Homo sapiens: one gene and its partners. The protein of the gene in region 1 purifies or fractionates together with the protein of each later gene. This does not show direct contact. Each region holds a gene or a part of one and is shown on either strand. Other genes may lie near its edges. The genes, in order: GMPS, LGALS9, GLO1, PSMD5, AKR7A3, CTPS1 and PAK2.

Region 1 (3,500 bases):
CCACTGCACTCAAGCCTGGGCGACAGAGCGAGACTTCATCTCAAAAAAAGGAAAAAGAAAAAAAAAAGAATCTTGGTGAACTTTAGATTTATTTGCTGGGGTCTTTTTGATGAATTGGAGTTTAAAAATATTCTTCCCTGTTTGCCGGTTTTTTTCCTAATTTGGATAAGGGAATCTTTGTACAGGGAGGGACTGTTCCAGTTTTACTGTCATATATAGTGTGGGTAAATACCTGTCCCAGTACACTCTAGTGATTACTTTTGTTTGTAAGAAATGAGAAGGTGAAAAGAGCAGGTTCATGGCATTCTCTTAACTTTCTCCTGTAAAGATCTTTTATGAACTTTAGGAACTGTATTGTTTAGAAAAATTATAACTTACTGTCTATACGTGGGACAAAAACCTTGCTTCTGTTGTAGTATGTTTGGAAGGAGACAATAAAGTAGTTGGTGATACCGGTGGTTTTGTGCTAATATGGTTTTCTATTGTGTATTTTACCTAAGTACATATTAAGAAAAGAAGAAAAAACATTAAACTTTACCATGATAGTTTCCGGGGAGATTTATTTTCTTTGCTAAAAACAGGACTAACGAAAAGTGAATAGGGAGAACTAGCTAAGTGGCACTCATATCTCTACCCTGATTCCCTCTTGTTTTCTGGGTGAAGATTGTGAAACAGATCCCTTCAAACCAGTGGCCAGCTACACTTCAAGTTGTTAAAATTGTCTGATTCTAATTTCCTCAAGTTATGTTCCAAACTGTACTCTCATTAACTCAAGATATTTGTGGTGTATCTTCATGTCTTTCAAACAGACATTTATATAAAACACTAATGAATCATTTTTTTGGAAGGAAGTAGTAGGATACTAAGTCCTATTTCAATGGCCTTTTTAATGAAGTGCAAATGAGAATCTCTCTAGAATGATTGTTTCTCAAGTAGAGAAAAAAAGATGAGTTTACTAATTTTGGGAAATTCACTGTAGTTTCCTCTTGGAGATTTCCAGTGCATGTTAGCATAGTATATTAATAGTTTCTGAAGTCTTGTCATAAAGACACCTATTTTTAAATTTTAATTGTGTATTTGTTTCCTAGGACTACCCATAACAAATCACCACAAACTAGGAGGCTTAAAACAACAGACATTTATTCTCTCACAGTTTAGGAGGCCAGAAGTCTGAATTCAGTGTTGGCAGGGTCATATTCTCTCTGAAGACTCTAGGGGAGGATCCTTCCTTGCTTCTTCCTACTATCGAGTGGTGGCAGCATAGTCCAGTCTGTCTTTGTGTTCACATGACCCTCATTCCCCTGTGGGTATCTGTGTATCCAAATTTCCCAGCACTTGGAAGGATACCAGTCATTGGATTAGAGCCCATCCTAATCCAGTATTACTTCATTTTAACTTGATTACATTTGCAAAGACCCTTTTTCTCCCCAGAGATTCTGGGTGGGCATGAAGTTTTGGGGATACTCTTCGACCCAGTACATTAAGTGAAAAGAGAGTTGTAATAATCACTTATATCTTTGCACATTCTGAGATACAGAATATTCCAGAGAACACACTTTGAGGAAAACACGTAGAACACAGACCTTCCTATAATCTTATATCTTGTCCTATCCATCTGGGGAGTTGAAGTGGGCAGGAGAAGGGCCTGAAACTAAGTGGGAAATGGAAAGAATGTTACTGTTCTAAGTGCCTTGCTTCTCATACTAAAATGTAATTTCTACATTTGAAATGTAATTGCTGTATTATTTTTACCTCTTTGTTTCCAGAGTTGTTTATATATTTGGCCCACCAGTTAAAGAACCTCCTACAGATGTTACTCCCACTTTCTTGACAACAGGGGTGCTCAGTACTTTACGCCAAGCTGATTTTGAGGCCCATAACATTCTCAGGGAGTCTGGTAAGTTGCTCATGTTTTTGATTACTACCCTCTGAAACTAGTTTTTGGAAGCTTGATATTAAGAGTAGGAGGATGTGGCTTTTGCTTTTTAGATGCTTTTGTTTTTATTATTTAAATCTTTGAATGTTCTATGATGTTGCTTTTTTTTCTTGAGACGGAGTCTGTCTTGCTCTGTCGCCCAGGCTGGAGTGCAGTGGCACAATCTTGGTTCACTTCAGCCTCTGCCTCCTGTTACAAGTGATTCTCCTGCCTCAGCCTCCCGAGTAGCTGGGATTACAGGCACCCGCCACCACACCTGGCTAGTTTTTTGTATTTTTAGTAGAGATAGGGTTTTGCCATTTTGGCCAGCTGATCTCGAACTCCTAACCTCATGTGATCAGGTCAGGAGTCAGGTCAGGCCAGCCTTGGCCTCCCAGAGTGTTGGGATTACAGGCGTGAGCCACTGCACCTGGCCTATAATGTTGCTTCTAAATAAAATATATTCCCCTTTGTGGCCATTTGTGGACATGCACAGAGCAGCAGAAAATTTGAATTTCCAGACTTAGATGTTCCCAGCTGAGTTTGAACAAGGTGACGCTATGCCTTCTTGTTTTCAGCTCTCATAATGTGAACAAGTCTTTTTCATGGTCTCCTTGATGCTATATCTTTTGCATTTTTATGTCTTTTGTTGGTGATTTTGCTGTTTAAAATGGATCTCAACTATAGTGTTGAAGTGCTGTCTGGGTTCCTAAGCACAGGAATGCTGTGATGTACCTTACAGAGAAAATCTGTGTGTTAGATAAACTTCATTCAGGCATGAGTTAAAGAGCTACTGATTGTCAGTTCAGTGTTAATGAATCTATAATAAATATTAAATACAGTGTCTTAAATCAGAAACACATAAAACAAGGTTATATATTAATCAGTTGATGAAAATATTACAACCAGAGGCTTGCAGGAACCTAACCCTCCATTTCCCCTGGGAGAAATGGTTCAGTATTCGCTAATTCGTTGTTTGCAGTGTAGAATATAACTATACTGCAAATTATAATAGAGAATAATGAGACTGGACTGTTTCTGTTTACAGCACATCAGTGAAACATCACTGATGTGATCAAATTCTGTTTTTTGCATTTGTGATTAAGTCCATTTAAAATGCTCTGCGAGTAGCTGAAATCAATGCATGATGACAGTCTTAACTACGCTGTGTGTGTATATGTGATTTCAGATATTGCCTGGGAGGATTTAATTGAACTGAGTTAGAGTGCTTTTCTATGGTGTGGTGATTGGTTCTACATATACCTTTCTCTAGGGTATGCTGGGAAAATCAGCCAGATGCCGGTGATTTTGACACCATTACATTTTGATCGGGACCCACTTCAAAAGCAGCCTTCATGCCAGAGATCTGTGGTTATTCGAACCTTTATTACTAGTGACTTCATGACTGGTATACCTGCAACACCTGGCAATGAGATCCCTGTAGAGGTAATTTATATATTTTTTTCTAATGCACGTTCTCAGTACCTCTTACATTTTATAATATGGTGAATGGAATAGGCTATGCCAGTGCTGTATTTCTTATGTTGGTTTTCTGTTCATAAGATAGGCTTTTTTTTTTAAATTT
Region 2 (3,500 bases), on another chromosome or scaffold:
AGGGTAATTTGCAATGTGCTTACAAAACTATACCCTTAATAGACCCTGGATAAAGGCTGGAACGATGTCGCTGAAAAATAAATGTTACCAGTGACCTGGAGAGGAGGAATGGCTATAGCAGAGGAATGGAATGAGCTTGGAATTCAAAGACACACAACACCAAATAGCAACGTGATGACTCCTCTAGTTCTTATTTTCAGAGTAAAAGAAGCAGCAGGTGCACCTGTAGATTCAGATGAAGGTGCATAAGGAGACTAGGCAGCCATGGGTAACACCTCACAAGGAAATGAGCGTGTTATCTGTATAGTGGTGTCACTCTGGCTGAATGTCAATTTAGGTGATTACTTAAAGGCCATTCACCTGATAGGGCTGGGGGTCCCAGGGGTGAGAGGTGGGGAGGGGATTCTTGCTCACCTTGAAATCTGAGCTCTGCACCAGGAAGCAGAGGTCAAAGGGCATCCCCTTCTGGAAAGGCATGTGTGTCTTCCTCTCCTCGGGCCCCCAGCTTCCGTTCTGCCTCGTGTTGCACACCACGTACCCTCCATCTTCAAACCGAGGGTTGAAGTGGAAGGCAATGTCATTTCCACTGAAGCCAGTCTGAAAGTTCACAGCAAACCTAGGCCCAGGGAAAGCAAATAGTCTTCTGTGGCATGGATTATTGCCAGTGACAGGCACAGGAGGGCCTCGGCGCCTGTGCTTTGCATTTGTCTGGATCTTGCACACAACCTGTATGGCAGAGACTGCTTTGTTGGCATCGTTTTTGTTTTTCTAATTGGGATCTAATGTGTTTTTGTTTTAATTATTGGATTTTGCCTTTACAGCATGATTTGCTAAAAGCAAATAGAAAACGGTTAAGGAAAAGTGCTGGTATTAGCAAACAAGAAACATAGGTCTTGGAAAGTGATTACCAATTGATACCGAAGATGGAAGTTGTTAAGCACACCTAGAAGAGAGAGCCTTCTGTGCCAGTGGACACTTGTTGGAGGCCAGCACATGCCTGATTAAATGGGAAAGAAGAGAACAAATGTAAAGAGCATGTGAAATTGGGGCTGGGCGCAGAGGCCAAGGCGGGTGGACCACTTGAGCCCAGGAGTTTGAGACCAGCCTGGGCAACATAGTGAGAGCTCATCTCTAGTTAAAAAAAAAAAAATTGGCTGGGCATGATGGCTCACGCCTGTAATCCCAGCACTTTGGGAGGCTGAGGCATGTGGATCACGAGGTCTGGAGTTCGAGACCATCCTGGCCAACATGGTAAAACCCCGTCTCGACTAAAAATACAAAAAATGAGCCAGGCATGGTGGCATGAGCCTGTAGTCCCAGCTACTCAGGAGGCTGAGGCAGGAGAATCACTTGAACCCAGGAGGCGGAGGTTGTAGTGAGCCCAGATAGCGCCACAGCACTCCAGCCTGGTGGCAGAGCGAGACTCCATCTCAAAATAATAATAATAATAATTAGCTGGGCATCATAGTGCACTCCTGTAGTCCCAGCTGCTCCGGAGGCTGAGATGGGAGGATCACTCAAGCCCAGGAATTTGAGGCTGCAGTGAGCTATGATCATACCACTGAACTCCAGGCTGGGTGAAAGAAAGTCCCTGTCTCAAAAGAAAAAAATTAATTAATTAAATGAATAAATGGAGAAGATTGCATTTGAAATATATCTGCATGTATTTTTTCCTTTGGAGTCCTTCAGCTTCATCCCTGTAGTCCTTTCGAAATTCCTGCCCCAAGGAAGGGAGAGACAGAAAGCTCCCAAGAGGAGAGGGCCCTCTGAGGTAGGATCTGTCTCTATATGACAGGATGGGAGTGGGAAGCCCTCCTGGTGCTGGGGGGTGGGGGAGGTGGAGGGAGAGGGAGAGAGGAAGGGGCGGAAGATCAGGGTCATGGTCCTGATTCCCCTGGTTGGAGGGTTCAGGGAGATCGGGGCCTCCCTGCCCTTGGCATCTCCTGAGGGCACCGCAGTCTCTCAGAGAAGTCCCACAGCAGGATGGCAATGGCGGAGGAGGTCACCAAGAATCTAGGTGTCCAAGCTGAGGTTTAGCTGGGATCTGTGAGGCCCAGAAGGTCTTAAGGAGAGGTCCCCTGGGACTGAGGCAGAGAGGCTTCCGAGAGAGAGTCATGAGTCCAGAGGCTCTTCTGTGGGCCCCGCAGAGTTCAGCAGGCAGCCACCCATGGTCCCCCACTAAACCAGGAGAGAGCTGCACACCTCTGTGCCACCCGGTCGGGGTGCCTCGGCAGGGGTCAGCCAGGCCTGAGTGAGGGTCTAGAGCCCTCCCAGCCACTGAGAAGCCATGTGAGCTCTTCTCTGTTCCCAGACAGCCCACCTTGGGAGGGAGGAGGGGGTGGGAAACAGCCCTGATACAATGTTAGTATGTTGAATTGACTTAGTAGTTTCTAGAAAAGGCCTTGAAACCAAAAGAGACCAAATTACTTTTGATGGCAATTTTCAATATTTTCACATCAGCAGAAGGAGAGCTTCAGAGTGGATGAGAGCAGTTACGGGAAATGGAGGAAGTTTGATTTTTGCAACTCTTAGTCACAGTGTGCAAGGTTCAACCCAGAACATAATCATCCAACTCTGACCATCCCACGCCCTCCTTAGACCGTCAGCTCCCAGGGCCCCATTCATCCTGGAGTCCAGGTTAATGGCACCCCTGGGTGCAGGTTGTGCCTGTGGAGTGCTGCCCTGTGGCATGGGTTAGGGACGCATTGGGCCTCCCCTGAGCCAGGCACGTGAGCTTGGATGTTGCTGTTTGAACTAACCCAGGCTCACAGGCACAGTGGTTTACTAAGGGACGAGGCTGGAGTGAAACGTTTCCATCCATATACACACACACCTGGTTCCACTGGAGCTGAGAACGGTCCCATTGACAGTGATCTGAAGTCCGTCCTGGAGACCTCCTTGAATAGTCCCAGAAAAGGGGACAGCCTGCAGGGAGAAGGTGTGGGAACATCAGTCAGGTGGCCGGCCTCCCGTTTGCTCCCCTCCAGCGCTAGTCAGTGGCCAGCCTGGGTTTGACAGCCCCATGCAAGGGGATAGGGTGCGGCTGTGACCAGTACAGAGGGAGTCGCAGCCCCACGGGTCTTAGGGTCCTGTGTGGAGGCAAACACAAATCCAATTAGTTACTCAGACAGTCTAAGCTTGTGATAAGGAGAAGCCTGGCCCTGAGAGGACGCGACAGGGAGCTGAGCTTGTGTGAGAGTCTAAGAGGCAGTGGAGGCTGCAGCAGGAATGCACCAGGCAGAAGGCCTTCCTTCCAGGCAGGGAAGTAGCAGGCAGACACCCTGGGCTGCTAAGGAATTAGGTAGCAATGGGGGCTGCTGGACCCCATGCTAAGCTCCCAGCAAAGGTCCCAGGCCCTGGCTGGAGACTCAGGAAGCCCAAGGGACCAAAGGGACCCATCAAGGGTCTGGAGGGTAAACCTTCGACTCACCCGAGGAGGTTAAGAAGAAGCCATCCCCCTCTCCCCACCACCACCATATAACAATGGCCACTGTGACCTT
Region 3 (3,500 bases), on another chromosome or scaffold:
AGAACTTGGGGAGGGAAGCTATTACTTTTCATTTTGTATTTTTCTGAACTGGTCAAATTTTCTAAATATAGACATATATTACTTAAATTTTTCTCTCAATGTGAATGGAAGTTATCTAGGCACTAAATTTAAAGATTATTTTATTATTCATGTATCTATATGCTCAAAAGCAAAATGCTCACATAACTTAGGGAAACAAATCAACAATATGACAAAATTATTTCTCAATATACCTCAGTAAAGCTGGAGAAAAAAAGAAAAATAAACATGCTTTAGAAAAATAAGTATGCTTTAGGATTGCAAGATCAGTGGATATGACCTGTTGAGCAAAAGAAAACACAGCCTAGAAAAATAGAACAGATGGTCAGTTTTAAGTAAACCCATTGGTTTTCTGAGTAGTAAGTTCTTATTATCTATAACTTTTCTGAAGTAAACAAGAGGCTAAAAGTGGCCAGAACATCAAAAGGGGTCTGAACACATTAAGGATTTAGCTGGGAGCGCTCAGAGAAGGCAGACTGGAGAAAATGCAACTATTTGTGTCTTGTTTTGCCCTTTCAGGCTGGCTGGGATAGAGAAGAAAAAGAACTTACGAGAGAAGCCCTGTCCAGCCAGGCCTAATCACAGACTCCTGGCCAAAAGAACTTCTGTTACTTCTGAAACAAACTTTAAGATGGGTCTGAAAACACTCTCTAGATTTGCAAAGCTATATATTTAAACATTAAGGTGCCAATAAGTACTTGACTTACGTCATTCCAAGAACTCTAGTATAAAAATCCAGTGACTTCTTAGGATCCTTCACTCGTAGCATGGTCTGCTGCAATAGAAAATCCTATGGAAAAATATTTATATTAAACATCTTTCACTTTTACCATTTATTACCAACATTAATTGTGCTTTCTGTAACAAGATACAAACACAATTGTTAACCTACCACCTACAACTTGCAAGGGCTCTCTGCTCAGTGGTATCTTCTGGTTGCAGGCCCCTGTGTGATGCAAGTCCAAAGTGTCAGAAAGTTTCCACTGCAGGAATGACCTTCAACCAATGGTCGATAAAAAACCTGGCATCCCTGTCCCTTGGTGGGACAATTCAGAGGCAGGTACCACAAAGTCCCTCAAAGAATCCCCAGCAGGATTGAACCTCAGTTGCCCACAGTGGTAATCCACTCGTATACACCTATGATCACCCTCTCTCCCTAACTCTGCAGAGCTCTCTGTGACCACTTCTCAAAAACTTAAAACCACACCATTCTCTCTAGTCTGCTTTGGGGCTACCCAAACTAAGACACTGATTTTACACATAAAGAGGTTGATCACTACAATATTTGTTGAATGAAGGCATAAATGCCCTTCTAGAACCATTTACTGGTGACCACGCAAATTAGCAAAGAGTTACTCACAAGATCCTAGACTCCTAAATAACTAAAAGGGTAAAAAGTTACTGTTGCTAACACCTTTGGGAAATTCAACTTACTTATCAGGAAACAGAAGGCTTGACTGAGAAAAGGGTAGAAGGTATGTAAATTCATGGAGTTAAGATTATTAATAGCATTAATAATTCTACTTAGGACTTAACTAGGTGTAATAACTCTATATGGTATTACTGTCGATATTCATACCCCATGTTGTAGATGAGAAGCTGACACTGAGTAATTAACTGTTTAAGGCCTCTAAGTTTTGGTCTCCCTTTACCATTGGTATGTACCTTCCAGACCATAAGTCTGTGAACCTCACTGGTGCTTCCTAACAGATTTTTTTTTTTTTTCTGTTAAACCCATGGCTTGACAAAACAGGCCTGAAAATTCTGACCACTTACTTTGGAGCCACATGCCATCTTTCTCCTATATAACTCACATCATATAAAATACAAATATAGTTCATTCAGCCTCATTAGGAAATTATATTTTTCTCTTTTGCTAAATTTTAAGTAAATGAAACATACTCTTTTAGGCATTAAAATTCTCATTTAAAACAAAACTAGCCTAAAAACTACTTTATCTTATTAAAACTGATCTTAATAAATATAATAATTAAATTCTTTATTCGCAGCTTATAATCACATGCCAGGCAGGTTACATGTTTCTAGAACATTTGGGTTGCTTTTCTCAGTCAGATGCTACAGTCCTAAAGGTCTCGATTTTATCAAGCAGCTGAGAAAGAGAAAAGTAGCTCTGCACATCCAAGTGCTGGCCTGGTACTCACAGCTGGGCCTTGGTTTTCTCCTGTTGAACATATATAAAGTCACTCTGTGGCTGCCATGATGTGATACCAAAATAAAAAAAAAAAATTTAAAGCAGCAAGACCATGTCCACTTCATATTCCGGTCTAAGTATACATTAAAACAAGGCACTATGAACACTACCAAAATAACAAACATCCTTCTTTCCCAGCTAATATGAGTGGTAGCTGCTTCTCTATTGATTACAATGTTTGCTTGAGGAAGCCACCTGCAGGACAAAGTCTTATGTATGATCTGTCAGGCCCGACCACACACAATCACACAGACTTTAGCTGGCAGGCCTCATGGGGGAGATCTGTCCTCCCAGCACTGGTTCTCAGTCTCAGGAGGGAGCACTGCAGTCCCTGGAGGGAGGTGCAAGCAAGGACTAAATTCTAAAGATGTCCTTCCTTATTCTCTCAAACACTAACCTAGGTGCTGCTGTGAGAGACTCTGAGAGGAAATTAAGGTCACTCATCAGTGGACTTTAAAATGGGATTAGCCTGGATTACTGAGGTGGATTCAATGTAATCACACAAGACCTTAAAAGCAGGAGAGAGAGAGAGCGAGCGTGCGCGCGCAAAGAAAGTAGAAGAGGAGTGTGGCATAAAGGGAAGTGGGACAGATTCCAAGTGTGAGAAGGGGCCAACCTGCAGGTGCTGGCTCTGAGACATGGGGCACATGTGCCAGGAGTTAAAGGCAGCTGCCCTCTGCTCCCACCCCACCATACCCATCCACGCCTGACAGCCAGCAAGGAAGCTGGGACCCCTGTCCGACAGTGGAAAGAAACTGAATTCAGGGAACAATCTAAATGGATTTAGATGCAGATTCTTCCCCAGAGCCTCTGAGTAAGGAACACAGTCCTGTCAATACAGTGGGACAGACCCAAGTCGGACCTCTAGCCTATGGAATTATGAGATAATATATTTCCAACCAAGCTGCACCCAACATTATTTGTTGCTCAGTTTTTTTAAAAAAGGATAAAATCTAAAAACTATCTTTTAAAATCTGCTTTGTAGTGACCCTGTTTATGTTTTGTTTCTTCAACATCTTTCTAGTACCAACATTAGTATTGGTACTTTACCAACGACTTTATCATTACTTCTGTTCACACTATACAGGCTATACTCAAATCCATATATCTTAGGCACAGCATGTATTTTTTGTTGTAGATGCCATGCCAAGTACTTGCCAAAGTTAGACAACCTTAACTATTCTATCCCATAGTCTATCATATCCTTATCTTACAATCTTTCTGGAAAACAACTGGAATATCAAGAGTC
Region 4 (3,500 bases), on another chromosome or scaffold:
AGAGAGCTATTTGAACACATAGGAATCTTTTTCTTTACACTAGGAGCTCCTTGAAGGAAAGTAATCAGTTTTGTTTATCTTGGTAACTCTAACAGCATATGGCACCATGCCTGGCATGTAAAAGGAACTCAGTCAGTATCTGATTAATGAATGATTTAGATGGTACTTAATGGAACTTCTTTCTTTAGCTTGTATCTCCCAGGTTATAGTTAGCTATGCACATTGGAATAGACCACACATTTCCTAGGGGGAAAGAGGGAGCAGAGGAGAGGGGGAGAAGGAAGAGGGAAGGAGAGAGAGAAATACTGTGCTTTCTTCATCTTTCTGTCCCAGTGCAGAACCTGGCCCAGAGCAGGTGGTCAATGTCGGTTCCTAGTAGAATTTCATACCTGGGAAAGAGTGAGGATTTTTACAGAATCATCAGGGTGAATTAGTCCCCTCTGCAGGTCAACCCTGAGGTTCCGGGCCACGTGAACCGGTTCCATAGCTTGGAGCAATCTCTCCAGAATGGATACACACAAAGTAGTCTTTTCCCTGAAGGAGACATCATAAATCTTATTAGTTCATATCCTGCCCAGGTAGGAAGTAACAACCTAATAATAGCTGAAGCTTGCGTCAGCGTCTCCTCCACACAGACTTCTTTTTGAAACAGCAGCTTTCACTCACCTACTAAACATTTGCTAAGTACCTATTATGCGCATTGCCTGTGCTGGGGCAACAGAGAAGAATAAGATATGCACTCTAGTCTTCTTTTTTTTTTTTTTTTTTTTTTTTGAGGTGGAGTTTTGCTCTGTCGCCCAGGCTGGAGTGCAATGGCCTGATCTTGGCTCACTGCAACCTCCACCTCCCAGGTTCAAGCAATTCTCCTGCCTCAGCCTCCCGAGTAGCTGGGATTACAGGGGCCTGCCACCATGCTGGGATAATTTTTGTATTTTTAGAGACGAGGTTTCACCATGTTGGCCAGGCTGGTCTCGAACTCCTGACCTCAGGTGATCCACCTGCCTCGGCCTCCCAAAATGCTGGGATTACAGGCTTGGGCCACCGCACCTGGCCTTTTTTTTTTTTTTTTTTTTTTGAGACAGAGTCTCGCTCTGTTGCCCAGGCTGGAGTACAGTGGCACGATCTCTGCTCACTGCAACCTCCGCCTCCTGGGTTCAAACAATTCCCCTGCCTCAGCCTCCCGAGTAGCTGGGACTACAGGTGCATGCCACCACACCCGGCTAACTTTTTGTATTTTTAGCAGAGACGGGGGTTTCACTGTGTTAGCCATGATGATCTCGATCTCCTGACCTTGTGATTCTCCCACCTCAGCCTCCCAAAGTGCTGGGATTACAGGTGTGAGACACCGTGCCTGGCCCGATATATTCTCTAGTCTTAAGGAGCTCAATACAATGAAAGATACAGAAAAAAAAGGCAACTGTAATCCAGATAAATAAACGCTATGGGCTAAGACTAGAAACTATAGGAGCTTAAAAAAGAACAGAGGGTACAGGGAAGGCTTCCCAGAAGGGTAACATCTAAACTAAATTTTAAGAAAAAGTAGGAGTTATCCAGAAGAAAAGTGTTCTAGGTAGAGGGAGTAGCAGCACATGAAAAGGCAGAGAGGAATAAGACATAGTATTATACTTTCAAGGAACAAGTAGTTTGGTATGATTGGGGTCAGAATGGGAGAGAGGTGGTGAGAAGGTAAAAGGGTGAGGTGAAGGACAAGAACTGAAACTGAAAAGATGCACAGAAGCCAGATTCTAACAGGTATTTTATGTCATGCTTGGAATTTAGACTTCTTCCAGAAAATCAATGGCAGGCCATAAGTGGTCTTAAAGAAGTAAAATGACGAGATCTGACTTATAGAATTCACTCTGCACCAGTGTTAGGGGAAGAATTTTCAATTACAAGGCAGTAAATGGTGAGAGGTGATGAAGGAGTAAACCAGGGGAGCAGCAGTGAGGATAGAGAGAAGAGGGAAGAACTATGTAAGAGAAACTGATGACTACCAGTGGTAGATACAGAAGATGTTTTCAGAACAATTTTCTTGTCTCTTAATAGACACTACAAATAAATGGGCTAATATATTGTTAGTAGTAGTACACAATTCAACTGATACAACCTTTTGGGTAGGTAACTACATGATACAAATGAAAAGCCTTAAAAATGAACATACTCTTTTAATTCAGGAATTTCACTTTGCATAATTGAACCTAAGGTAGTATTAAGAATGTTTTTATACCAAAGATAATTGAAAACATGCTATTTTCACAAAACTTGTACACAAATGTTCACAGCAGTGGAAACAATCCAAATGTCCACCAAGTGATGAAAGGATAAACATGTGTTATGTGCATATAATGAATATTATTCAGCCATAAAAAGCAATGAAGTAATGATACATATCACAATATGAATAAACCTTTAAAATATTATGCTAAGTGAAATAAGCCAGACACAAAAGGCTTCCTTTTGAGAATGATTCTGTTTATATGAAATGTCCAGAATAGACGAATCCATATAGAAAGTAGATTCCGCTAGGCTCGGTGACTCACGCCTGTAATCCCAGCACTTTGGGAGGCCATAGCAGGTGGGTCACCTGAGGTCAGGAGTTCAAGACCAGACTGGCCAACATGGTGAAACCCCATCTCAACTAAAAATACAAAAAAAATTAGCTGGGTGTGGTAGTGGGCGCCTGTAATCCCACCTACTTCAGGAGGCTGAGGCAGGAGAATCGCTTGAACCCAGGAGGCGGCAGTTGCAGTGAGTCGAGATAGCGCCATCGCACTCCAGCCTAGGCGACAAGAACGAAACTCTGTCTCAAAAAAAAAAAATAAAATAAAATAAAGTAGATTCCTGGTTGCCAGAGGCTGGAGGAACGGGGAAGAGGAGGAATGAGGATACTTACAAGTATGGTTTTCTTTTCCTTTTAAAAAAAAAATGTGATTACAGGTAAAATTTACCATTTTAACCACTCTTAAACGCACAGTTCTGTGGGAATAAGTACATTCACTTTGTTGTCCAGCCATCACCATCGTCCATCTCCAGAACATTTTCCTCTTCCCAACCAGAAACTCTGCATCCATTGAACACTCCCTATTCTCCCCTCCCCAAGCACCTGGCAACCACCATTCCACTTTCTGTCTCTCTAGATTTGACTACTCTAGGTATGTAAGTAAAAGCATACAACATTTATCCTTTTGTGTCTGGTTTATTTCATTTAGCACAACGTCTTCAAAGTTCATCTGTCAGAATTTCCTTTCTTTTTGAGGCAAGATGTACAATATCCCATCATATGTATATACCCCATTTTGTTTATCCATTCATCCCTTCATAGACACTTTGGTTGCACATGTGGGTTGCATTGCTTCTGTGCCTTTTAAAATTTTAGCCAATCTAATAGTGTGCAGTAGAATCTCACTGTAATTTTAATTTGTATTTCCCTATTTAATGTTGAATATCTTTCTACGTGCATATTTATCATCTGTACTTTTTTTTTTTTTTTTTGAGATGGA
Region 5 (3,698 bases), on another chromosome or scaffold:
TGGGAAGGGATGACTGTACTTTGCAATGTGAGAAGAACATGACATTTGCGGGGGGGTGGTACTGGTACAATGATATCATCAGGGTATTTTGTCCCCTCCAAATCTCATGTTGCAATGTGATCCCCAATGTTAGAGGTGAGCCTGGTGGGAGGGGTTAGGGTATGGGGGCAAATCCCACATGAATGGCTTGGTGCCATCTGTATAGTAATGAGTGAGTTCCAGCTCTATGAGTTCACACAGGATCTGGTTGTTTAAAAGAGCCTGGAATTTCCTCCCCTGTCTGTCTCTTGCTCCCTCTCTCACCATGTGACACGCTGGCGCCGCTTCCCCCTCTGCCATGACTGTAAGCTTCCTGAGGCCCTCACCAAGAGCAGATGCCGGCACCACACCCCCTTGTACAGACTGCAGAGTGGTGAGCCAAATAAACCTCTTTTCTTTATAAATGACCCAGTCTCAGGTATTCTTTTATAGCAACGCAAACAGACTAACACACAGCACCCTGGGAGTTTTATTCTTCATTTGGTGGTGACTCTTCTATTAGGTTTTTGTCCAAATACTTCCATCCCTAAGAATTTACTGAGGCAGTTCTAAATTAAAGAAAATGTGAGTAACAAAAGATGTTACAGAAGAGCCTTGGGCAGCCTGAGAAACGATGGGCCTAGCGGAAGTAGTTGGGACATTCGTGAGTAACCAAATGCCAGGCTTGATTAAAGGCGTCCACGACAGCCGGCTCCAGGGGCCCTTCCTCTGCCGCTGCCAAGTTCTGCTCCAGCTGCTCCAGGCTGGACATGCCCAGGATGACCGCGTCCCCGTGGGCACCCTGCAAGGGAGACGGCCAGACTTCAACCCTCTTCTGCTGCACAGCGACTCTACTCACAGCCGTCCCAGCCACCTCCCTGCTGAGATTTGGGATCTCTTGTATCCCATATGTCCAGAAAGAACTTAAGGTGCCTTGGATAGCTGTACCCATGTGACGCAAAACCTGTATCCCTTCCCCTACTGCCACACGACGCTTCCAGACAGACCTACATTCACAGCCCAGTTCTGCCCCCCAGCAGCTGTGTAAACGCGGCTAAGTTATTAAACCTCTCTGAGATTCAATCCTCTTTTCTATTTTCAACATGGTTATGGGTGTGAAAAATTATGTAGAGCACTTAGCTCCCATTTATTGAGCACCTACTGTATATATGCCAGACACTATTGCAACATCTAAGGCTGGAGTTGGATATAAGTGAGGAAGACATGAGGCACTGAGAGAGGGAAACTCCAGCTCCCACCAAAAGGATGAGACTAGTGGGCTTTACAGTTAAACCTGTGTTAAAATGTCTGCCCCTTTCATAGCTGGGTGAAACTCAGTTTCCTCGTCAATAACACTGGGATAGTCATTTCATAAAGCTGAAGGAATAATGAAATCCCTGCAATGAAGCTCTCATTACAAAGCCTGGCACTCAGATACCATCAAAGACCAATGAGAAGGCCGAGCGCAGGGGCTCACGCCTATAATCCCAGCACTTTCAGAGGCTGAGGAGGGCGAATTGTCTGAGTTCAGGAATTTGAGACCAGCCTGGGCAACATGGTGAAACCCTGTCTCTACTACAAATACAAACAATTAGCTGGGCATGGTGGCGCACGCCTGTAATCCCAGCTACTGGGGAGGCTGAGACAAGAGAGTTGCTTCGGCCCAAGAGGCAGAAGTTGCAGTGACCCGAGATCATGCCACTGCACTCCAGCCTGGGTGACAGAGTGAGACTCTGTCCCCCCAAAAAAAAAACATAGAAAAAGACCAGTGGGAAGAATGTTTGTGAGAGTTGAAAGAAAGAGAAATTTCAGAGGAATCGATAAACAAATGTTTCAGCCTTCATCTAAAGATATTGCTGGTTCCCCTGGAAGGGAAGAAGCTGAGCGCACAGGGTCACTGGTTACCTGCAGCTGTGAGTGGTGGTACATCCACCGGAGGGTGGCCGAGGTCATGCTGGGGGCGCTGGCGCCATACGCGGCCTGCAGGGCCTTCTCCACCAGGGCAATGCCCTCAAAGTGGTGCTCCTTCCAGTAGCTGGGAAGGGGGGACGGTGGCACAGGTGTCAGGGCCACATTGGGAGCCACAACCAAAGAGCCAACCAGGGCCACTGTCCCACCCCACACCCTGCAGCCCTGAGGGGCAGGTGTTCTCTCTAGCCATGGGTCTCCCACTTTGCTGGGCAAGAGAACCACTCAGGATGCTGGGCCCCTCAGCAGAGACCTCAACAAATCTTTATTCCTGAGGACTCATCAGCCTGCTCTTATTTTCCTTAGGGACACAAAGGCCGCTAAGATGGGTCAGGACTCAGCCCCAGGCCTCCTGGACCTCCCTCCAGAGCTCCTTCTTTCCTTCCTAGCAGGTGATTGCTCAGGAAAGAGCAACGACTTCAAGACCCCGAGGTCCAGGGAGTCTCCTTTCCTCCTGGAGGTCCCAAGACAACAAGAAAACCGATGGAGGGTTTGGAAATTCCCGAAGAAATTCAGGGGAGTAGGTGCAGCAGCGAGGAAAGGCCTTACCCCAGGAGCAGCCCAGGACTTCATTCCACATAAAGCTGACCCCACCCCAGCCATCCACACCAAGCACCCACAGCTTACCGATTCCTGTACATCTCTGCCCAGGTATTCCCAAAGAAGCGGCCCACGGGCTGTTTCCCATTCTTGTCCTCATACTTGTACTTGCCGGTCAGCAGGCCCCCTGAGGGAAAGCAGCAATCAGCCCCGGGGCCTAGAGTGCCCCAGAAGCTGCCACATCCCTCAGGGCTCTGGTCTAGGGGAGGGGCAGGGACCCAGGAGGGCTGAAGATGCAGCCTTTACGTCTTTGACCTCAGAGGTCAAAGTTTGTCAAACCCTCCTTGCTTCCCAGGTCCTGGGCTGGGCATCTGTGGGTCGGGAATAGGCTGAGACAGGGCCAGGAATGCTCCACGTACCAGCCAGAGGGTTGAAGGCATAGAACCTCAGTCCAAAGTGCCTGAGGCAGGGGAAGAGCTCCGTTTCCACCTGCCGGGTGATGGCATTGTACATGCCCTGTAAGGAGAGGGGCCCCGGGGGAGAGGGTGGATGTGTCAAAAGAAGAGACTTCAAAATTACCCTTCCAGAACCCTTATTTCAGACCTTAACAATTCTAGGACTTTAACCGTCTGGGCGTATACTTATTCTAACTGGTGCTGGTGAAAGAAGCTTATGCCCATGGAAAATTCATTCATTCTGCCAACTTTCATGAGCACCAACTATGGGCTGGTTGTCAGATTTAGATTCTTAAGCCAAAAGGACAGGGTCCCTTCCCTCAAGGTTTTATAATAAGGTCAAGTATAAACAGTTATAATCAAGTCATGAGGCAATCATAATAGACTAGAAAGTTCTGTGACCAGTGCCTGGCACCAAGCAGGTGTGCAAATATTTGTGCAATGAATCATGAGGAGGTAAACAAGGACCTGAGGTCTCAGGGTCTTCTGGGCCCATCTAGAAAGGCTTCCAGAGGAAGAGACACGTATGTGAGACCTGAACCATTCTCTCACGGAAGGGGCGGTGGTGGGGGAAGGGCTTGTTCCAGGCTGAGTGCAGGGGAAGGTAGGGAAGGAAGGGTCCAAGGTGCACAGATAGGCAGGAAGGAAGCAGATGCCCAGTGGCCAGCCTGAGGAGCTTGAATGGCATCCTGAGGGTACCTGGGAGCCATCTGCAGG
Region 6 (3,500 bases), on another chromosome or scaffold:
ACCTGCCACGATGCCGAGCTAATTTTTGTATTTTTAGTAGAAATGGTGTTTTGCCATGCGGGCCAAGTTGGTCTGGAACTCCTGACCTCAGGTGAGCCACCCGTCTTGGCCTCCCAAAGTGCTAGGATTACAGGTGTGAGCTACCACGCCTGGCCTTGCCTTTTTTTTTTAAGAGACAAGGTCTTGCTGTGTCACCCTGACTAGAGTGCAGTGGTGCTGTCACAGCTCACTGCAGCCTGGGCTTAAACAGCCCTCCTGCCTCAGCCTCCTGAGTAGCTAGTACCTTAGGCGGACGCTACCATGTTCAGCTGTTTTATTTTTTGTAGAGATGAGGTCTTGCTATGGTTGCCCAGGCTGGTCTTGAACTCTTTGGGCTCAGGCAGTCTTCTTGCTTCAGTCTTCCAAAATGTTGAGATTACAGGCGTGAGCCGGCAATGCCCAGCCTTACTTACTCTTTTAATTGGAATGTTTATCTTACTGAGTTGACTTGATATAGTCTGAATACAAGTCTTTCATCAGGTATGTGATTTTCACATATTTTCTCCCTATCTGTGCCTTGTCTTTTCATTTTCTTCTCTCTTTTTTTTTTTTTTTTTTTTTTGAGATGGAGTCTTGATCTGTTGCTCAGACTGTAGTGCAGTGGCATGATCTTGGCTCACTGCCATCTCTGTCTCCCGTGTTCAAGCGATTCTCCTGCCTCAGCCTCCTGAGTAGCTGGGGCTACAGGCATGCACCACCACACCTGGCTAATTTTTGTATTTTTAGTAGAGACGGGGTTTTGCCAAGTTGGCCAGGCTGGTTGCGAACTCCTGACCTCAGGTGATCTGCCTGCCTCGGCCTCCCAAAGTGCTGGGATTACAGGTGTGAGCCACCGCACCTGGCCTTCATTTTCTTAATAGTGTCTTTTAGAGCACAGACACTTTTAAATTTCGATGAAGTCCAATCTGTTTTTTTCTTTTATGGATTGTGCTTTCACTGTCGTGTCTAAGAACTCCTTGCTCTTAACCAAGGTCATGAAGATTTTCTTGTAAAAGTTAGTTTTAGGTCTTACATGATCCATTCTAGGTTAACTTTTGTGTGTAGTGTGAGGTAAGGGTTGAAATTTTTACATGTGGATATCTACTTGCCTCAGCCCCATTTGTTGAAAAGACTATCCTTGGATACTATTCTGTACTTTTTAAAAATAAAGGTACATTATAGATTTACTAATCTTCATAAAGTTGTTTAGACTTATTTATAGCTATTCATAATTTTTATTACTACCGTGTATTTTTAAAAATTATATTTTCTGATTAGATAATACCCCATGTGTAGGAGACCCTGCTGACCTCTGTCCATTCATCTACAGCCTAGCAACCTTACTAAAATTCTATTAGTACTGATTGTTTACCTGTAAATTCTTTTGGTTTTTATGGATAAGCAGTGATATTGTATGCATTATTCAGTGGCAACCGCTTCTTGTTTTCTGGTTCATTTTTTTTTCTTATCTAATGATAATGGCTAATATCTTCAGTACATCATTGAATAGAAGTACTGAAAGTGGCCATTCTGGCCTTGTTCTGGACTTTAAATAGTAAACATTAATATTAAACCATGTGATGTTTACTGTGGGTTTTTTATATTGCCAAATTTTCCCTAATCTTAATTTACCAATAATTTTTATTATGAATTTGGTTTTGAATTTTTATCAAGTCTACATCTACTGAGGGAATTGTTTTCCTCCTTAATCTGTTTTCTATTTATGTGGTGAATTCCACTGTTAAATTTCCTAACACAGTAGTTCTCAAACTTGACTGCACACTGGAATCACTTGGGGAGCTTTAAAAATACTGATGCCTGCCTCCTACCCCACAAGATCCTAATTCAAGTGGTCTGGGGTGCAGCATGGGCTTTTGACCTTTTATAAGCTCTGAATGATTCCAATATGCAGCTGAGTTTGAGAACCACTGTTCCTAGTTAAGCCATTCATAGGTTCGTGGACATGATTTTTTTAAAGCTACATTTGTGATTTGGATCATGAATTATTATTATTATTATTTTTAAGACAGGTTCTGGCTCTGTTGCCCAGGCTGGAGTACAGTGATGCGATCTTGGCTCACTGCAACCTCCAACTCCCAGGCTCAAGTGATCCTCCCACCTCAGCCTCCCGAGTAGCTGGGACCATGGGCACATGCCACCACACCCAGCTAATTTTTTGGGTGTTTTTTTTTTTTTTTGAGACAGAGTCTCACTCTGTCACCCAGACTGGAGTGCAGTGGCACAATCTCAGCTCACTACAGCTTCAAGCTCCCAGGCTCAAGTGATTCTCCCACCTCAGCTACCCCCCAGTTAGCTGAGACTACATGCACATGCCCACCATGCCTGGCTAAATTTTGTATTTTTTTGTAGAGACAGTGTTTTACCATATTGCCCAGTCTGGTCTTGAACTCCTGAGCTCGAGCAATCCTCCTGCCATGGCCTCCCAAAGTACTAGGATTATAAGCATAAGCCACCTTGCCCAGCCATGAATTTTTTTTAAAGGACTTTTGCATCCATGTTCATAATAGATTGGCCACTAATTTTCTATTCTATTCTTGAGTCTGTTTTAGTAGTTTATCTAGAAAATTGTCCTTTTTTCTGTTTTCAAATACATAATATTTTTACAAGGTCACGTAGCTAGTAGGAGGCTGTAAGCCTGGTGAGTTTTTGCTTTTATTTAATAACTTGCTTTTTTCTAAACAGGTGATCTGTGTCCACGATGTCTCATCCATCTACCGAGTCCCCTTGTTGTTAGAGGAGCAAGGGGTTGTAGATTATTTTCTTCGAAGACTTGACCTTCCTATTGAGAGGCAGCCAAGAAAAATGCTGATGAAATGGAAAGAGATGGCTGACAGGTTTGCCTGCAATGAGGAGCTGGGAGTGCTAGCCTCCTTTACTCTTTTGTAGGGCTGGTGAAGCCGACTCTAGCCCTAGCACTTTTGTACTTTTGCACTTCTGCCATCCACTCATTAGAAGAGCCTTTGTAGTAAGAGATGTTCAGAAAGGATCTTAGCTGTCACGTAGCTGTGGCACAGATGAGGAGATCCTGATAGGGCCAGGCCAGGTGCCGGGCCTCCAGACAATGAGTTCGGGTTATGTCTTAACACGCTTGTCTCTTACCAACTAGATCAGTGCAGATGGGCGTCCTGGTGGCAGCGGGTGAGTGTGCATATCCAAAGCCCACACGAATGGCTGACAGTGGCTGGAGCACTCCTGGGTACCACTCCAGAGTTCTGAGCTGTGTTTGGGAATGTGTCTCACCCCACACCAGAAAGGGATCACATTAGGACGGGGATGTGTTGCTGCCTACTCCACTACATCCTTTTAAGGCTCGGTGATGCTGTCACATTCCTTCAGAAATCTTCACTTCGTGTCTTAGAGCAATGGGCAGGCCTTATCTTAGTTGCAAGATCAATATGATGGCCTAGAAGCATTTGGAGAGGGCATACTCATTCCGTTGCTCTGTGAGAATCATTTTTCAT
Region 7 (3,500 bases), about 41 Mb from region 1:
CATATCATCATCTAAATGTTACAATAGCATCTCATAAAATTCAGAAGCCATTCCTATTTTTTGTAAAGCAGAAACAGAATAAAATAATAATCTTTCTCTAAATCCAACAGCTGCCATCATCCCTAACTGTAAAAATATTAATACCAGAGTCATTTCAAGACAACGACACGTCTCTTGTTTAACCAAGTCTTGGAACTTCAGGCCAATGTAATAAAGACCTAAAACAGGGTTAAGGGCTGGGCACGGTGGCTCATGCCTGTCCAACACTTTGGGAGGCTGAGGCAGGCGGATCACGAGGTCAGGAGATCGAGACCATCCTGGCTAATACGGTGAAACCCCGTCTTTAAAAAAGAAAGAAAAAGAAAAAAAAAAAAGGTTAAATATTGTAACCATAGAAAAGTGACTGAAGTTACTATTATTCTCAGATAAAACAATGAACCTGGAAAACAAAATAAAGACGTTTACTGAAGTCCAGTAAGATAATAAAAATACCAATGAACAGAAAAATCTAGTTACTACTTCTTCTTTTTTTTTTTTTACTTAGAGATGGAGTCTCGTTCTGTTGCCCAGGCTGGAGTGCAGTGGCTTGATCTCAGGTCATTGCAACCTCCGCCTCCCGGGCTCAGACAATTCTCCTGCCTCAGCCTCCGGAGTAGCTGGAACTACAGGTGTGCACCACCACACCCAGCTAATTTTTTGTGTTTTCAGTAGACACAAGGTTTCACCACGTTGGTTAGGCTGTTTCCAACTGCTGACATCAGGTGATCCACCCACCTAGGCCTCCCAAAGTGCTGGGATTACAGGCGTAAGCCACTGCACCCGGCCAAATATTTTTATACCTGTATTTTATTTCTGTAGCAAAACTATTTTAAAACTCTTTTATCCCCACCAGGCATGAAAAAATTCCAGAAAGATTAAGATTGAAACACAATGGGCTGGGCACGGTGGCTCACGCCTGTAATCCCAACACTTCGGGAAGCCAAGGCAGGCAGATCACCTGAGGTCAGGAGTTTGAGACCAGCCTGGCCAACATAGCAAAACCCCGTCTCTACAAAAAAAAAAAAAAAAAAAAAATCAGTTGGGTGCGATGGTATGGTGCCTGTAATCCCAGCTACTCGGGAGGCTGAGGCAGGGGAATCACTTGAACCCGGGAGGCGGAAGTTGCAGTGAGCTGAGATCCAACACTGCACTCCAGCCTGAGTGACAGAGTGAGACTCTGTCACAAAAAAAAAAAAAAGATTGAAACACAATAATTATTAAAAGTACCAGAAGAAAACACATAAGAATGTTTTTTGTAAAGGTGGAATGAGGAAGATCTTAAACAGAAGGCAATAGATTAATATCTATTACATGTGAAGAGCTTCTACAACTCAATAAGGAAATATACATTACAAGTCTTTTTGGAATGCAATTCAAAAAAAAAAGAAAAAAGAAATTTAAATGCACACTTACAAGTCGTTTTAATGGAAATACTTATCTACATATGCATGTGCACAAAGACATACGTATAAGTTCATTAAGGCTCTAGTTTTAGTTGCTCAAAGTTAGAAATAACATAAATGATCACAAATAATTAAAGTACTACCATACAGCATAATATCTAATGACTTAAAAAGTAGAGGTGCCACTATATGTCATGATATGGAAAACAATACTTAATGATCAGATTTTTTATTTTAAAATCAACATAAAAAGTATCCGACACACAAAAGGTACTACTTATTTCTAACTCAGTAAGTAAAACTATTAACAGCGGGTAGGTACTTCTAAGGAATGGGACTAAAAAGAGAAAGTAATTTTCACTTTTTAAGAATTTTATAAGACAGGGTCTTGCTCTGTCACCCAGGCTGGAATGCAATGGTGCAATCATAGCTCACTATACCTCCAACTCTTGAGCTCAGGTGATCCTCCTGCCTCAGTCTCCCAAAGAATTTTCACTCTTTAAATATTTAATTGACTTGTTTGAACCTTTTATAATAAATATGTACTGCTTTTAGAATTTAAATTTAAAATAAGGAACAAAACCACTGTTCCAGTTTGTTACAATGGTTCTGCCAGCTGAGACTAAGGTAATTTTGTCTTAAAAGTTTTTACCACTTTCCAAATTTCTTATTTAATATTTTTTTCTACTTTTATTTTTGTCTGATTTAAGAGATGGGGTCCCCCTGTATTGTCCTGGCTGACCTCAAATTCCTGGACTCAAAGGATCCTCAGCCTCCCAAGTAGCTAGGACTACAGGCACCACCAGCCACTGCCCACTTTTCAACTTTTATACAGGAAATATGCATATTTTTAAATCTGAGAAATTTGTGTTCAAAAACCCTATGTTTTATTTCAGTGGTGAAACTATTACATATTTTTTCTCCTGAAAAATTACATTTTATTCATCCAAAAGTAATTTTTATTTTTAGTTACGGTCTCAGAAACTTCGTTCTTTTAGAAGGCAGTTTTTTGTTTGTTTGTTTGTTTGTTTTTGAGACGGAGTCTCACTCTGTCACCCAGGCTGAAGTGCAGTGGCGCAATCTCAGCTCACTGCAGCCTCTGCCTCCTGGGTTCAAGCAGTTCTCCTGCCTCAGCCTCCTGAGTAGCTGGGATTACAGGCGCCCGCCACCACGCCCAGCTAATATTTTTATTTTTAGTAGAGAATACTAAATTCTCTACTAAAGAATAGTAGAGAATATAGGTTTCACCATGTTGGCCAGGCTGGTCTTGAACTCCTGACCTCAAGTGATCGGCCCACCTCAGCCTCCTAATGTGTTGTGATTACAGGTGTGAGCCACCGCACCCGGCCTAGAAGGCAGTTTTAATTCTAAGTTTAGGAGTATCGACTCTACAGCATGTAAGAACAGACTATTAACTAACGTTTATTAAGACCTATAATTACAGAATCCTTTACCTGCATTCCCTCATTTGATCTAAATATCCCTGTGAAATTGGTATTATTATTATTATCCCCATCTTACAGGTGAGAAAAGCAAGTCTTGAAAAGAATGTATATCTTGCCCAGGGTAAAGTAGAACAGCAAGAATTCAAACGCAGGACTCTAGCTCCTAACCACATGGGATACATGGAGTAAGTACTAAAGAAACTCAGAGATAGTAGGCTGGAACACTGAAATCCTGAATGAATGTTCAGACTGACTACCCTTAACCAGGCAGGTGACCCTAGAAGGGAAGAAGTGATGAAACTCAACTCTGATCACAGAAGAAAACAACCAGTATTTTATTTTTTGGGGGCAATGAGGGATTTTTTTCCTTTCCTATTCTGCTCTGTTAAGGCACAAAAAGGATACTAGGAAGAGCTTGGACACACAATTTGCAATTAACACCCTCCCTCTGATTAGTCTGGAAACTCAACTCTTATACCAAACTGATGGAAACCTTTACGACTTAAAGTCTTGAAGTTGACCCAGTTTCTTTTTCTTTTTCTTTTTTAATGAGACGGAGTCTCGCTCTGTAGCCCAGGCGGGAGTGCAGTGGCGCGATCTCGACTCACTGCAA

Evidence for each region.
Region 2: the proteins of GMPS (region 1) and LGALS9 purify together in Homo sapiens (co-immunoprecipitation; one large-scale study listed by IntAct). This does not show direct contact.
Region 3: the proteins of GMPS (region 1) and GLO1 fractionate together in Homo sapiens (co-fractionation; one large-scale study listed by BioGRID). This does not show direct contact.
Region 4: the proteins of GMPS (region 1) and PSMD5 fractionate together in Homo sapiens (co-fractionation; one large-scale study listed by BioGRID). This does not show direct contact.
Region 5: the proteins of GMPS (region 1) and AKR7A3 purify together in Homo sapiens (co-immunoprecipitation; one large-scale study listed by IntAct). This does not show direct contact.
Region 6: the proteins of GMPS (region 1) and CTPS1 fractionate together in Homo sapiens (co-fractionation; one large-scale study listed by BioGRID). This does not show direct contact.
Region 7: the proteins of GMPS (region 1) and PAK2 fractionate together in Homo sapiens (co-fractionation; one large-scale study listed by BioGRID). This does not show direct contact.

Annotation. Positions count from the first base shown.
Region 1 is NC_000003.12:155,933,150-155,936,649, forward strand, and holds part of GMPS (GMP synthase [glutamine-hydrolyzing]), read left to right. Parts: intron 1-1,766; coding exon 1,767-1,897; intron 1,898-3,188; coding exon 3,189-3,361; intron 3,362-3,500. UniProt on the Homo sapiens protein: Catalyzes the conversion of xanthine monophosphate (XMP) to GMP in the presence of glutamine and ATP through an adenyl-XMP intermediate.
Region 2 is NC_000017.11:27,637,688-27,641,187, reverse strand, and holds part of LGALS9 (galectin-9), read right to left. Parts: intron 2,926-3,500; coding exon 2,834-2,925; intron 617-2,833; coding exon 415-616; intron 1-414. UniProt on the Homo sapiens protein: Binds galactosides. Has high affinity for the Forssman pentasaccharide. Ligand for HAVCR2/TIM3. Binding to HAVCR2 induces T-helper type 1 lymphocyte (Th1) death.
Region 3 is NC_000006.12:38,686,146-38,689,645, forward strand, and holds part of GLO1 (lactoylglutathione lyase), read right to left. Parts: intron 830-3,500; coding exon 747-829; intron 1-746. UniProt on the Homo sapiens protein: Catalyzes the conversion of hemimercaptal, formed from methylglyoxal and glutathione, to S-lactoylglutathione. Involved in the regulation of TNF-induced transcriptional activity of NF-kappa-B. Required for normal osteoclastogenesis.
Region 4 is NC_000009.12:120,832,923-120,836,422, forward strand, and holds part of PSMD5 (26S proteasome non-ATPase regulatory subunit 5), read right to left. Parts: intron 535-3,500; coding exon 390-534; intron 1-389. UniProt on the Homo sapiens protein: Acts as a chaperone during the assembly of the 26S proteasome, specifically of the base subcomplex of the PA700/19S regulatory complex (RC).
Region 5 is NC_000001.11:19,282,073-19,285,770, forward strand, and holds the end of AKR7A3 (aldo-keto reductase family 7 member A3), read right to left. Parts: intron 3,043-3,698; coding exon 2,946-3,042; intron 2,714-2,945; coding exon 2,614-2,713; intron 2,054-2,613; coding exon 1,924-2,053; intron 821-1,923; coding exon 659-820; 3' UTR 501-658; downstream 1-500. UniProt on the Homo sapiens protein: Catalyzes the NADPH-dependent reduction of various carbonyl-containing compounds, including aldehydes, ketones, and toxic products from cellular metabolism or environmental exposure.
Region 6 is NC_000001.11:40,993,196-40,996,695, forward strand, and holds part of CTPS1 (CTP synthase 1), read left to right. Parts: intron 1-2,721; coding exon 2,722-2,873; intron 2,874-3,500. UniProt on the Homo sapiens protein: This enzyme is involved in the de novo synthesis of CTP, a precursor of DNA, RNA and phospholipids. Catalyzes the ATP-dependent amination of UTP to CTP with either L-glutamine or ammonia as a source of nitrogen.
Region 7 is NC_000003.12:196,742,857-196,746,356, reverse strand, and holds part of PAK2 (serine/threonine-protein kinase PAK 2), read right to left. Parts: intron 1-3,500. UniProt on the Homo sapiens protein: Serine/threonine protein kinase that plays a role in a variety of different signaling pathways including cytoskeleton regulation, cell motility, cell cycle progression, apoptosis or proliferation.